Linked DNA regions of Homo sapiens: region 1 is linked to region 2. The links come from fine-mapping of genetic effects on gene expression. A gene starts in region 2. The other region holds a variant in brackets. All regions are shown on one strand. Distances are from middle to middle. Region 1 overlaps PXYLP1 (2-phosphoxylose phosphatase 1). Region 2 holds the start of PXYLP1 (2-phosphoxylose phosphatase 1).

The links.
Region 1: its variant is fine-mapped to the expression of PXYLP1 in whole blood (TOPMed, PIP above 0.99).

The regions. Positions count from the first base shown.
Region 1 is chr3:141,283,859-141,289,230 of GRCh38, reverse strand. It overlaps PXYLP1 (2-phosphoxylose phosphatase 1), which reads right to left. Exons shown (of 6, transcript NM_001037172.3): 5 at 1,778-1,917. Among named protein-coding and RNA genes, the nearest start is that of PXYLP1, 55 kb to the right of the region's middle. The variant C/T (reference allele first, on the strand shown) is at 2,206.
Region 2 is chr3:141,229,409-141,234,780 of GRCh38, reverse strand. It overlaps PXYLP1 (2-phosphoxylose phosphatase 1), which reads right to left and starts at 2,956. Exons shown (of 6, transcript NM_001037172.3): 1 at 2,870-2,956. RefSeq lists a silencer at 2,838-3,217.

The sequences.
Region 1 (5,372 bases), 54 kb before region 2:
AATTTTCCAGAAATACAATATAAACTAAGGAACATCTATATTTTGTTTTGATCAGAACTTCAGAAAAACCATGTCCTGACATGTGGTATTAAGAGTCAACAATACAGCATCCATCAATCATCTGCATTTGTAGTTGTCAGAGTCACATTTAGGTACAAGCATTTGAAGATTTCATTCTATTTTCTAGTGTAGCTGTTCTTAAGCATTTATACAGAGACACATATAATTAGGTAGTAAATTAGTTTCTTTTCATTTGTTATCGCTGGGGACCCTGGTATAACTTTTAAGTAATTAACTGCATAGAAAGATTACATTCATTCATTCATTCATTCATTGAGACAGGGCCTCACTTTGTCACTCAGGCTGGAGTGCAGTGGCATGATCATGGTTCACTGCAGCCTTGACCTCCCGGGCTCAAGTGGTCCTCCCGCCTCAGCCACCTGAGTAGCTGGGACTACAGGCACATGCCACCACACTTGGCTAATTTTAAAAAATTGTTTGTAGAGATGGGGTTCCACTATGTTGCTCAGACTGCTCTCGAACCCTCAGGCTCAAACGATTATCCTGCCTCAGCCTCCCAAAGTGCTGGGATTACAGGCATGAGGCACCATGCCTGGCTGGTTACATTATATTTAAATTTCACTTCATGATAGTTGAGGGAGATTGCAAAATAGTTAATTGTGTAATCAAAGGGGGTGTTGGATCTGCTAGGATGAAAACCCTCGTTCTAAAGTAATGCATGTGGAACTAATTGCCAAAGGCTTTTGACACAACTCCTTATCCACGGCTAGTCCTCCAGAGGCTTCAGCTTGTTCCACTCTGTCTATCCAATATCATTTCCCCAATAATAATGGCAAAACCTAAGAGGGCCTACTATAGGATGGAGACCTTCCCTCCATCCCTGCTGAAGTCCTAAGATGCTGATGCAAGATGAAGACAGAACATGGCCAATGGGTCTTCCCAATTCACCCATAAAGGCTGGTGACCAGGCAAAGGTCCTCTGAGGTTCCAGATTGAAGAATCAGAAAACTGAAACCTCTTGAAGGACCACCTGTTCCTCTATTCCCAGCAAAGGTGACTCCACAGTTAACTCACCAACCTACCCTGATGGTGAACTGACTGCACATGGTCTGACTAGGGCTGCGGAGGGAAAGCTGTGCTTCTGTGAGAACTCAGCTCAGCCAAACAAACTCCACATGCAGTAGAAATGTGCCATGCATTTTCCTCCCTGAGATCTTGTACATGAAAACCTATTAGAAGTTTTGTTAGAAATATCTGAGAACATGAGATTAGTTAAATAAATGATCAATTGCCCATCCAGAGTGAAAGAATATGGCGCTATCATAAATGATGTAGTGGATAAACAGTTATTCATAGGGAAATATTAACAAAATGTGTTGTTGAGTGGAAAAGTGGGTTATGAAATAGTGTGTTTAGTAAGATGTGTGTGTGTGCATAAGCACAGGAAGAAGGGTTACTCTTAAGGGTCTATTTCTGTGGTGGAATTACGGTTGCTTAAACTTTTTCTTCTTTTTACTTGTCTTTCCTAAATTATTTTCATGAACACGTATTGTTTTTGTAAGAAGGAGAAAGGTTCTATTTAGTTTTGAGAACTCTGATGTTTATTTAGAGGCCCTGGTGACCGAGCTCCTTGCAGAGCCAGTCCTTGCTTACCCCCTCTGAGCTGCACAGCACCCCGCCCAGGAGAACTGCTCGGAAGGTATGCAAGCAGAAGAGCGGGTGGGGGAACCCCTGAGCGCATGGGGGTCACACATACCTGTCTGTGTGAGCTCTCCCATCTCACACAATGGGTGATTTGGGTAAAGAGGCAAGGAGTTCAAGGGGCTTTCGAAAGAGGCTCCGGATCCTTTTGACATGTGACTAATGAAAGCTTCCAGTTTTGGGTGATACGGTTTCCTAGAGAGATGATAGAGAGAGTTAGAGGTCAGAGTGCTCCACAAGAATCCAAACAGTTTCCAGCTTCAGCGAGCCAAATCCCACGTGTATCGCAGCCTTTTGCACCCACAGTAACAGGTACCGGCTCAATCACTTTTCAGTTCCAATTTCATTATTTCTCGACCACTGACACTGACACATGAAATCCCCTCTGTGAGGTTGGCCAGAGTTCCTAACCTCTGCTGAACTCAGTACTGTGGGATTCAGCTTCGCCGTCTATCTTCCGGCTCCCCAACCTGTGCTGCCTTC[C/T]GGGCTCGCTCTCCGGGAGGCCGCCAACACCCACCCAGCAGTCACGCCTAGGCTGGGCATCGTCCCACTCTCTCCATTCCCTGCCCCTGCACATGCTGTCTGCTCCCCATGTCTTGCAGATTCTTTCTCCTGGTGCTTCTCCATCCCCTTCTCCTTCATCCTCACAGCTACTACCTAGGTTCTGGCCTCAGGCAGCTTTTGTCTGGCTGGCAATGGGCTCTTTATTGGTCTTCTTGCTGATTAAGCATGCCCCTCTAATAATCTTGCCTTCTCCACCACCAGAAGGATTGATTTAAAAGGTAACTCTGACCAGTCACTGCCCTTCCCTATCACCACCTTCTGGAAGGGGCCACACACAGCCTGTCCCTCTATTCTGGCCTCGCCCTGGTACTCACTGGCCCTCTCTACCCTAATACTGTGCTCTGGCCACGCCAAGCCAAAGGCCTTCTTTCCTCCAACACACAACGCACCTCATTCTTCAACACTTCCACCACTTCCCACGAGCTATCCCTTCCTCCTAGAAAATCTACCCTATCCTTTATCAAGGTCACCCATAATCCTTAATTTTTCTGACCTCTGAAAAATCCCCCTTTAGGAAAATTGTTAACTGAATAAGATAACCAGGATCTCTATACCTCTTTACAATCCACTCCACGTTTTGGACATACAACCTCTCATTTAATATAGGGTAATAATAAATGTCAAAAAAAGTTTATATATGAGATCTGAGAGTATCTATATTTCTGCCACAAAGTATATGTGGTAAATCTTTCTAGTCACTAATATACAATTACCCTGAATAATGAAATGACCTATGAATATAAACATCTTTTCTTTGAATAATGAAGTAGCCTATGAATGTATATACATTTTCCAGCTGAAGAGAAGTGGACAGATAGAGTAGTTCATGCCTAAACTCTATAAGAATCAGCATGAAAAGAAGCAAAGATAAACTGTTCTAATGGCAAACCCCTGCTGTCTGAAGGCCCAGTTAACTTTGAAAGTGCTTTAAAAATGGCTGCCAAAATGGGTTTATTATCTATCAACAACATAAAGCTAAAAAAAAAATCCATCTTTTAAAAATACGTTTTTAAATTAGAGAATACTAATCCAGACATGTAATATAGTCTAATAAATCACCCTGGATAGCTAAAGGGAGTTATGCCTTTCCACAAAAACAGGGTACGTTATTTTGCCTGAGGCTAAAGCACATAAATGTTTGCAAACTGGGAAATAAAATGTCCAGACTGACAATGAGGCTGCCAAGAGTAATCCACATAAACAAAGGCTATCCATCAACAGGAGTCAAATGTTCTGCACCAGGCCATTATTTCAGGTTGGAGCTTTTTTTGAGGATCTGAGAAAGCTTTGCTGCCAATTTTAGAAATGGAATTTCATGACTGGAAGTGTTTGCTGAGGTGACCCAGGTTTTCAGGGCATCTGACTGCTTAATGATATCTAACTGCATTCATTCCAATGTTTTTTATTTTTGTTTTTTTTTGTTGTTGTTGTTGTGTTGTTTGTTTTTGGCATGCAAAGATGAAGATTTGTGGAAGAAAAACTTCATTTAAAGAATAGCTAACAGGCCGGGCATGGTGGCTCATGCCTGTAATCCCAGCATTTTGGGAGGCCGAGGTGGGAGGACTGCTTGGGGCCAGGAGTTTGAGACTGGCCAACATAGTGAGACCATGTCTCTACAAAAAATACAAAAACTAGCCAGGCATGGTGGCGCAGGCCTATAGTCTCAGCCACTCAGGAGGCTAAAGCAGGAGGATCACATGAGTCCAGGAGGTCGAGGCTGCAGTGAGCTGTGATTGTACTACTGTACTCTAGCCTGGGTGACAAAGAGATACCCTGTCTCAAAAAAAAAAAAAAAAAAAAGAAAAAGAAAAAGAAAAAAAACATTTGACAACAAATGGCTGTATCTTTTTAGTGGAAAGCAGACCAGGTAACTCGAGTCCTGGACCTGGATCTGACTACCCAGGCCTTGTCTGCCTGGTCCACTGCTCCATCCCTGGAGCCCAGAGGGTGCTTAGCACATAGCAGATGCTCTAAAAATATATGTGAGTGAATTCAACTGTGAAGTGTCCCATCCTTGGATGTTTCATGAAAATAGCAAGCCTTCCATAATCTGTAGAAATGAATACGATAAGTTCCCATACGGTTTGTTAAAATATTCAGATTTTGATGAAAATATAGTCGGCCCTCCATCTCTTCAGATTCTGCATTGGAAGATTCAACTGTGGATCCAAAAATACTTGGAAAAAACCCAATAAGAAATAACAATACAACAATAAAAATAATACAAATAACAACTATTTACACAGCATTTACATTGTGTTTGGCGTTATAAGTAATCTAGAGATGATGTAAAGTACATGGGAGAATGTGCGCAGGTTCTGTGTAAATACAACACCATTTTACATAAGGGACTTGAGCATCTCAGATTCTGGTATCCAAGGAGGATCCTGGAACCAATCCTCTATGGATGACTGTATTAAAACTAAAGGCTAGTGTGGATGAGACTAGTGTACTAGTCGTACACTAAAATCTATTCTCTTCTTAAGAACTTGGTTAGATCCTATTTCTGAGGTCCTGAAATGAGGTAAAGCCGCATTCGCCAACAGAACGGAAAGATGTATGCCACTTCTGGGTTCAGGCTTTCTGATCATGTGTATGCCCGGTTCACATTATCTTCCTTCCTTCCAGCCATTATTTAGGCATGGCAGCAACCAGGGTTCAACCATGTAGCCATCCCCAGGGGATGGTAGAAACAACAACCTGGAAGAAACCTGGGGCCCTGAATGACCAGGTGGAGCTGACTAGCACAATCTGGAACACACATTTCAGACCTTCACATGAGGAAGAGCTAAACTTCCTTGTTATTTAAGGTAATGCATTCATGAGTCCCTGTGCTACAAAATAAACTTACAAAATAGGTGTACCCTGACTAATGCAGACATAATTATATCCATGAAAATAAATTTTTCTTTAGGAAAAACTCATATTATTGTGGGCTCATTGAAAATCTGCTTTCATAATGAAAACTGAAATAATCAAAAGTGTTACTATCTTAAGCCTTCAAGTCATTCACTTTGGAGTCCTTATCTTCACTTTTATATGCATTATTCACATCTATTTATGCCACAAAGTTTGAGGCTGAACCC
Region 2 (5,372 bases):
TCCCCCACAAAAAAAGGGGGACATGAGGTGTTCCCACCCCCTCAGCATTTGGCTGTACTGCCTGGGGGTGGCCTTTGACAGAGGCACAAGAGCTGGACCTTGCCCCATCTGCCAGTGGGTTATAGCCACCTCCAAGAGACCAAAGCACTGGCCCAAAACACCAACCTCCCTCCCACCAATAGAGCTGCAAGCCACAGTGCCAGAAATGTGCAAGAAGAGGCACTCCCAGCTCGCCACAGGAAGCAACACCCACTGGAGTGGGGATGGTGCAATCTGAAGTGGCCAGTGGGGCTCTGCAAGTGGTACCCTGTCTCCCTGGGAGCTTCCTCCGTCAGTGGGCAGGGATAGGAAATGTTAAAGGGGACTGGGGCTACAGCTCTGGGCACTATAGGTTAAGCTATGGTGGACTCAACCCTCAGCAGACAAACTTAGTAGCTTCCAAGGGCGCCCACCACCACCTACCCCAATTCTTGAATGAAGACAACTGATTTTCTTCATGGAAATCTTGGAGTCCCCACTGAGGTTAACGACCCACCATCAGAGACTGATCCGTAGATTGCACTCACTGCTCCAAACACACACAAAAATGAGTTTGTCTCTGGTGATATGACACATTAAAAAAAAAAAACTGTTGAATTTAAGGGTAACATTTTGAACAGTGTAGCAAAGTGTAGAAAACATTGGTTGTGAACTCAGACTAATTCACCGGGGCATCCATTTTTTTTCCTCACAAACACTGAGTACCCCTATGTGGTAGACAGGGGGGACCAGGCAGGGACCTGGGGCCACAGAGGTGGTTCCTTCCACCCATCCCTGAAGATGCTCCTGCACAGTGGGGCATCTGACAGCGACTCATCACAGAGCGGTGTAGGGAGGGCCAAGGAGAAGCCCACGGGAATTTCTGGACAGAGAGACCCTACTGAGCCCCAGTATGTCCTTGGGCTACTTATCTAATCAATAGTGAAGTAATATTGAGCTAACTATTCAAGCTGATCAATAGAAAAAAGAGTTACAGATACTGCAGTTCCACAAACACTCGGAGTGCTGTGCTCCAAAGGCCAGGTGGCCCACGCTGTTCCTGGTGCCCAAACGCAGCCTCCCAAGGCATCAGTGAGGATGGGCTGGCCAGGAGCCAATCCCTAACAGAGAAGTTCCCCCTACACATCCTTTCTCTGAGATAAGCAATTAATTTAATCCAAGACTTAATGAAAGCCAGGAGAAGGGATGGGGCAGATTCATACACTGGCTTTCAGGCTGTCCCGTGCATCTTCACCTCTCTCCAGGGACCACGAGGGTTTTTTTTTTTTTTTTTTTTTTGACAGGGTTTTGCTCTTATTGCCCAAGCTGGAGTGCAATGGCGCAATCTCAGCTCACTGCAACCTCTGCCTCCCAGGTGCAAGCGATTCTCCTGTCTCAGCCTCCTGAGTAGCTGGGATTACAGGTATGCACCACCACGCCTGGCTAATTTTGTATTTTTAGTAGAGACGGGGTTTTTATGTTGGTCAGGCTAGTCTCGAACTCCCGACCTCTGGTGATCCGCCCGCCTCGGCCTCCCAAAGTGCTGGGATTACAGGCGTGAGCCACCGCGCCCGAGGCCTTTTGATCCATCTGCTATAAATCCCCTTCCCACAGATGTCCCGATTGGGCACCAACACCTCTGAGGAGGGTAAGTTACTGCCAAGCCCGACCGCAGTCGCATCCCGTTTGAAAGGGTGGGCTCCGCACTGCCAGCTTCACACCCACGGGCCTTCTGCAAATATCAACAAACGGCTCCATTTGTGGAGCACTCTCCGATCCCCCATCCACCCCCCTACACTTCCCCATTCACAGCTCGATCTGATTCCCCATCTCTCCTGATTTTACTTGTTGAATGCTTACAAAGGATCCTTGCCTTTCCACAAAGACACTGGCTAGCCAGGCGGTGATAACCTCACTCACTACAGAGCCCCCTCGCAATCGCTGAACTCACAGCCGAAGCGGGAAAATATGGCTCCACGTCCTGCACCGTGAATCCTTTACCATCCACAGGTACAATTTAAAAGGCAGCTGCGGCTGCAAAGCAGGCAACCTACCCTAAGCAAATCCATTCTCTCTCTCTCTGTGTGTGTGTGTGTGACAAACCCAGCTTATTTAAAAGATCAGGACATAGGCAAGTTCACCAGCAAAAGCAACGTCGTGGGTCTACACCACACGGTCCTAACCTGCGCATCCAGGAATGTTAACCTGCGCTCGGGCGGCCCCGTGGCCAGGCCCGGGACTCCCGGAGGCGTCAGGCTGCAGGTGGCTGCCAAGAGGAGCCAGCCCCGTCTCCGGGAAAGGCCGCGAAGTTGCGGCCGCCTCCTTACCTGGAGACTAGCCGGCTCAGGACCGCCCGGGAAGGGGGATCCCGGGAGCTTGAATCTCGGCTGGAATCCAGCGGCGGGAGTGCGGGGGCCGTGCGGGAGAGGGCTGGAAGGGCGGGGGCGAGGTGGAGGCGGGCTCCGCGGGAGAGTGCGGGGCTGCGGGGGGCGAGGGCTTGGAGACAGAGCCGGGGGTTCGCAGCGGGCGTGAGACGGCGCCAGCTCTGGGAGAAGGGGGCTATGGGGCGGGCGCCGGGGCTGGGACACCGGGCGCACGGGGGGAGTGGCAGGAAAGAGGGCGCAAGTCCTAGGCTCAGGGGCGAGCGCGGGGATAAAGGAGGAGGCTTAGTCGCGGGATTCGGACCCGACGCTTCGAAGCGCCCCCAGCCTTCCCGCCCCTCTCCCACTGGCGAGTTAGGGGGACCCCCTCAGTCTCCCAACCTCGGACCCTGGACGCCCACCCGCCTAGAACCTCTGCGCTGCTCGGCCCCAACGGCAACCGCCCCGGCCCAGGCCCGCGCCGCACTCACCGCCCATGGTCCCAGGCCGGCCCCAGCTCCGTCGCTGCGCGCCCGGCTCGGCGCTCGCCGCCAGCTCCTCCCGGCGCGAGGGGAGGCGAGGGCGGCGCGCACCCGCCACCGGGGAGCTCGCGGGGCCCGGCAGCGCCCCCTGCCGACCCCGCCGCGCCCCGTCTCAGTTCGGCCGGCCCTGCACCAGGAGCCCTGGAGCTCCGCCCCGGAGGCGGTGTTGCGGTGCGGCTGGGCGGGGGCGACCGCGCGGGGTTGCTGAGAGGACACTGCCTCTGGGAGGCCCAGCACAGCCCGGAGAGACTGGTCAGTCTGCAGAGCCCTCGGCGTGCAAAGCCACGGGCACGGACAAGCCGAGCGCGCAGGGACCACGACCACAGACGCGCAGGGCTCTCGCGTGCCTCACAACTCCTGACCTGCGATCAGGGACTGCGCGGAGGCGCGCCAAGGCCCAGGAACACAGCCCTGGCCGGCCCGGGCCCTAGTGTGGGTGCTTTGGGGCCATGTGCCTGCCCTGGCGCCGCTGATGCTATCGCCGGGTGGGCGCGCGCGTCTGGGGTGCGCCTGCTGCCACGTAGACCCAAACTGTCACCCCCCACCCCCCACCCCTTTCGGCCTATCCCACACTCCTCTTCCGGCTCAGAACACATCCGGCCTTGTGTTGCTCTAGTCCTCGCTGCTGCTCCGTCTCCAACGGTCTGCAGAGACCCGGGGAGGTCGTGGCCCCGCGCAGTCGCCCTTCCCACCTGCTCCCGGCCCGCGGCTTCCTTGGAGCCGCTGCTGAAGATCCTCAGAGCACTTGAGGGCTGCCTGTAACGCCCCGTTAGACATCTGATAGGCGAACGGTTGTATTTGGTTTGATCAGTATTTGTGGGTCATTTATTGCAAATGTTAGGTTCCAGCTGGTGGAGATTTCCACCAGATTTCTCTGTGGGAGATGAAACGACCAACAGCGATTATCAGAGAGGTCTTTGCTGTCAGCTCGAGGTCTACAGCAACCCTGTGTGTCCTAGCACAACTAGCCTCAGGCAAAATAGATACGGATTCGAATTTGCTACTATATACCTTTGAGGTGCACCTTTGGGAGGATCTCATCCCTTGACTTCTGCTTTCTCTCCTTGATTGATGGCTCTCAAATCCACACACTTGGCTCAGATATGTTAGCCATATTTCCCCCTACCCTCCGGTTTTTTTCTTAGAACTTTCCTCCTCAAGTTACCACGTCTGGCACTAAATTTTACCTCTTCCAAGCTCCCAACTCCATTTATCCCCGTGGTCTCGCCATTCTCTCAGCCACCTGTCATGCCTTCTTCATCAGGTGCCTTAATGGCTCGTCAGTACCGGACTTTGCTGCCTGTCCGCCTCTGGTATTCCCCCGATGCAGCGCTATCCCGGGCCTTTTTTCTGCCCTGAATACTGACAGCCTCTCCCAATCCATGAGCACAAAATCTTTTCACTGTCCCCTTTGGCATCACCCCCAACTCTCCCACCTGGCCCCCACAGAAGCCCACCGCAGCCCGCCCAACAATGTCTCCTCTGCCCCTTCTGATTGTCCTCTCACGGATTGCAGGCTCTACTGCTTAGCTCACACTGTCACCCTCTTCTCTACATGGGTTAGTCAAGGTGCTTTCTGCTGTAAAAGACAACCCAATTCACACTAACTTAAATCACAAAGGGTTGATCCGCTGTGTACATGAAGAGCCTGTCTGCTTCAGGCCTGGCTTTAGTCCCAGGGTCTCAGGGACTCCCCGTCTCAGTTTTGCTGTCTTCCACATGAACTACGCTTTCATGCGCACATGAGACCCTGGCAGATCCAGGCTCACAGCCTCACAGCTCTAGTTCTAGCAGAAAATCAGCTTCTCTGCCAGCCATTGCAACTAGCCTTGGACCTGGCTTTGTTTGCAGGATTGGGCCACATGTCCATGCTGTGCTCTCAGCCTCTGTGACTCCATGGCAGGTGGGTTCACTCGTGGACACACTATCACCCTCAGCAGGGAGCATGTAGGCACTCTTGGATCCCTTCTCTGTCACAAGGGGACTAAAGGTAACTCAGGGCACCATCTCTAGCCATTTCTCTGCAAAATTTGCCACACCAGCGCTTTGCTTGACAGCGCAGGGCATACTGTGGGGGCAGAGTCTCAGCCTGGAGATAGGACACAGGCCCTTTCTGCTTTCAGCTTCCTCCTTAACCTATCTGAGATCTGTGTCTTTGTACCACCCCCTTCCCTAGGTCCACACTTGGTATAGGGATAGCCTCAGGCCCTCATGGAATCAGGCATCATACACTCCCTAGACTCACATCCTGTTTCTTTACCTCACCTTCCCGATTCCCTGAGGATGTCTATGCTACCTTCCATTCTAGAGGAGGCATCTCCTCCCCCTGTGGACTCTGGGTTCTGAGTGGTACCCACCGAGCCTTAATGGAGAAAGGGGCTATAGGGAAGAAAAAAGAAAAGCTTCCTACAGGGAAAATAGATATGAGGAAGCATCTCAAGACCATTACTCC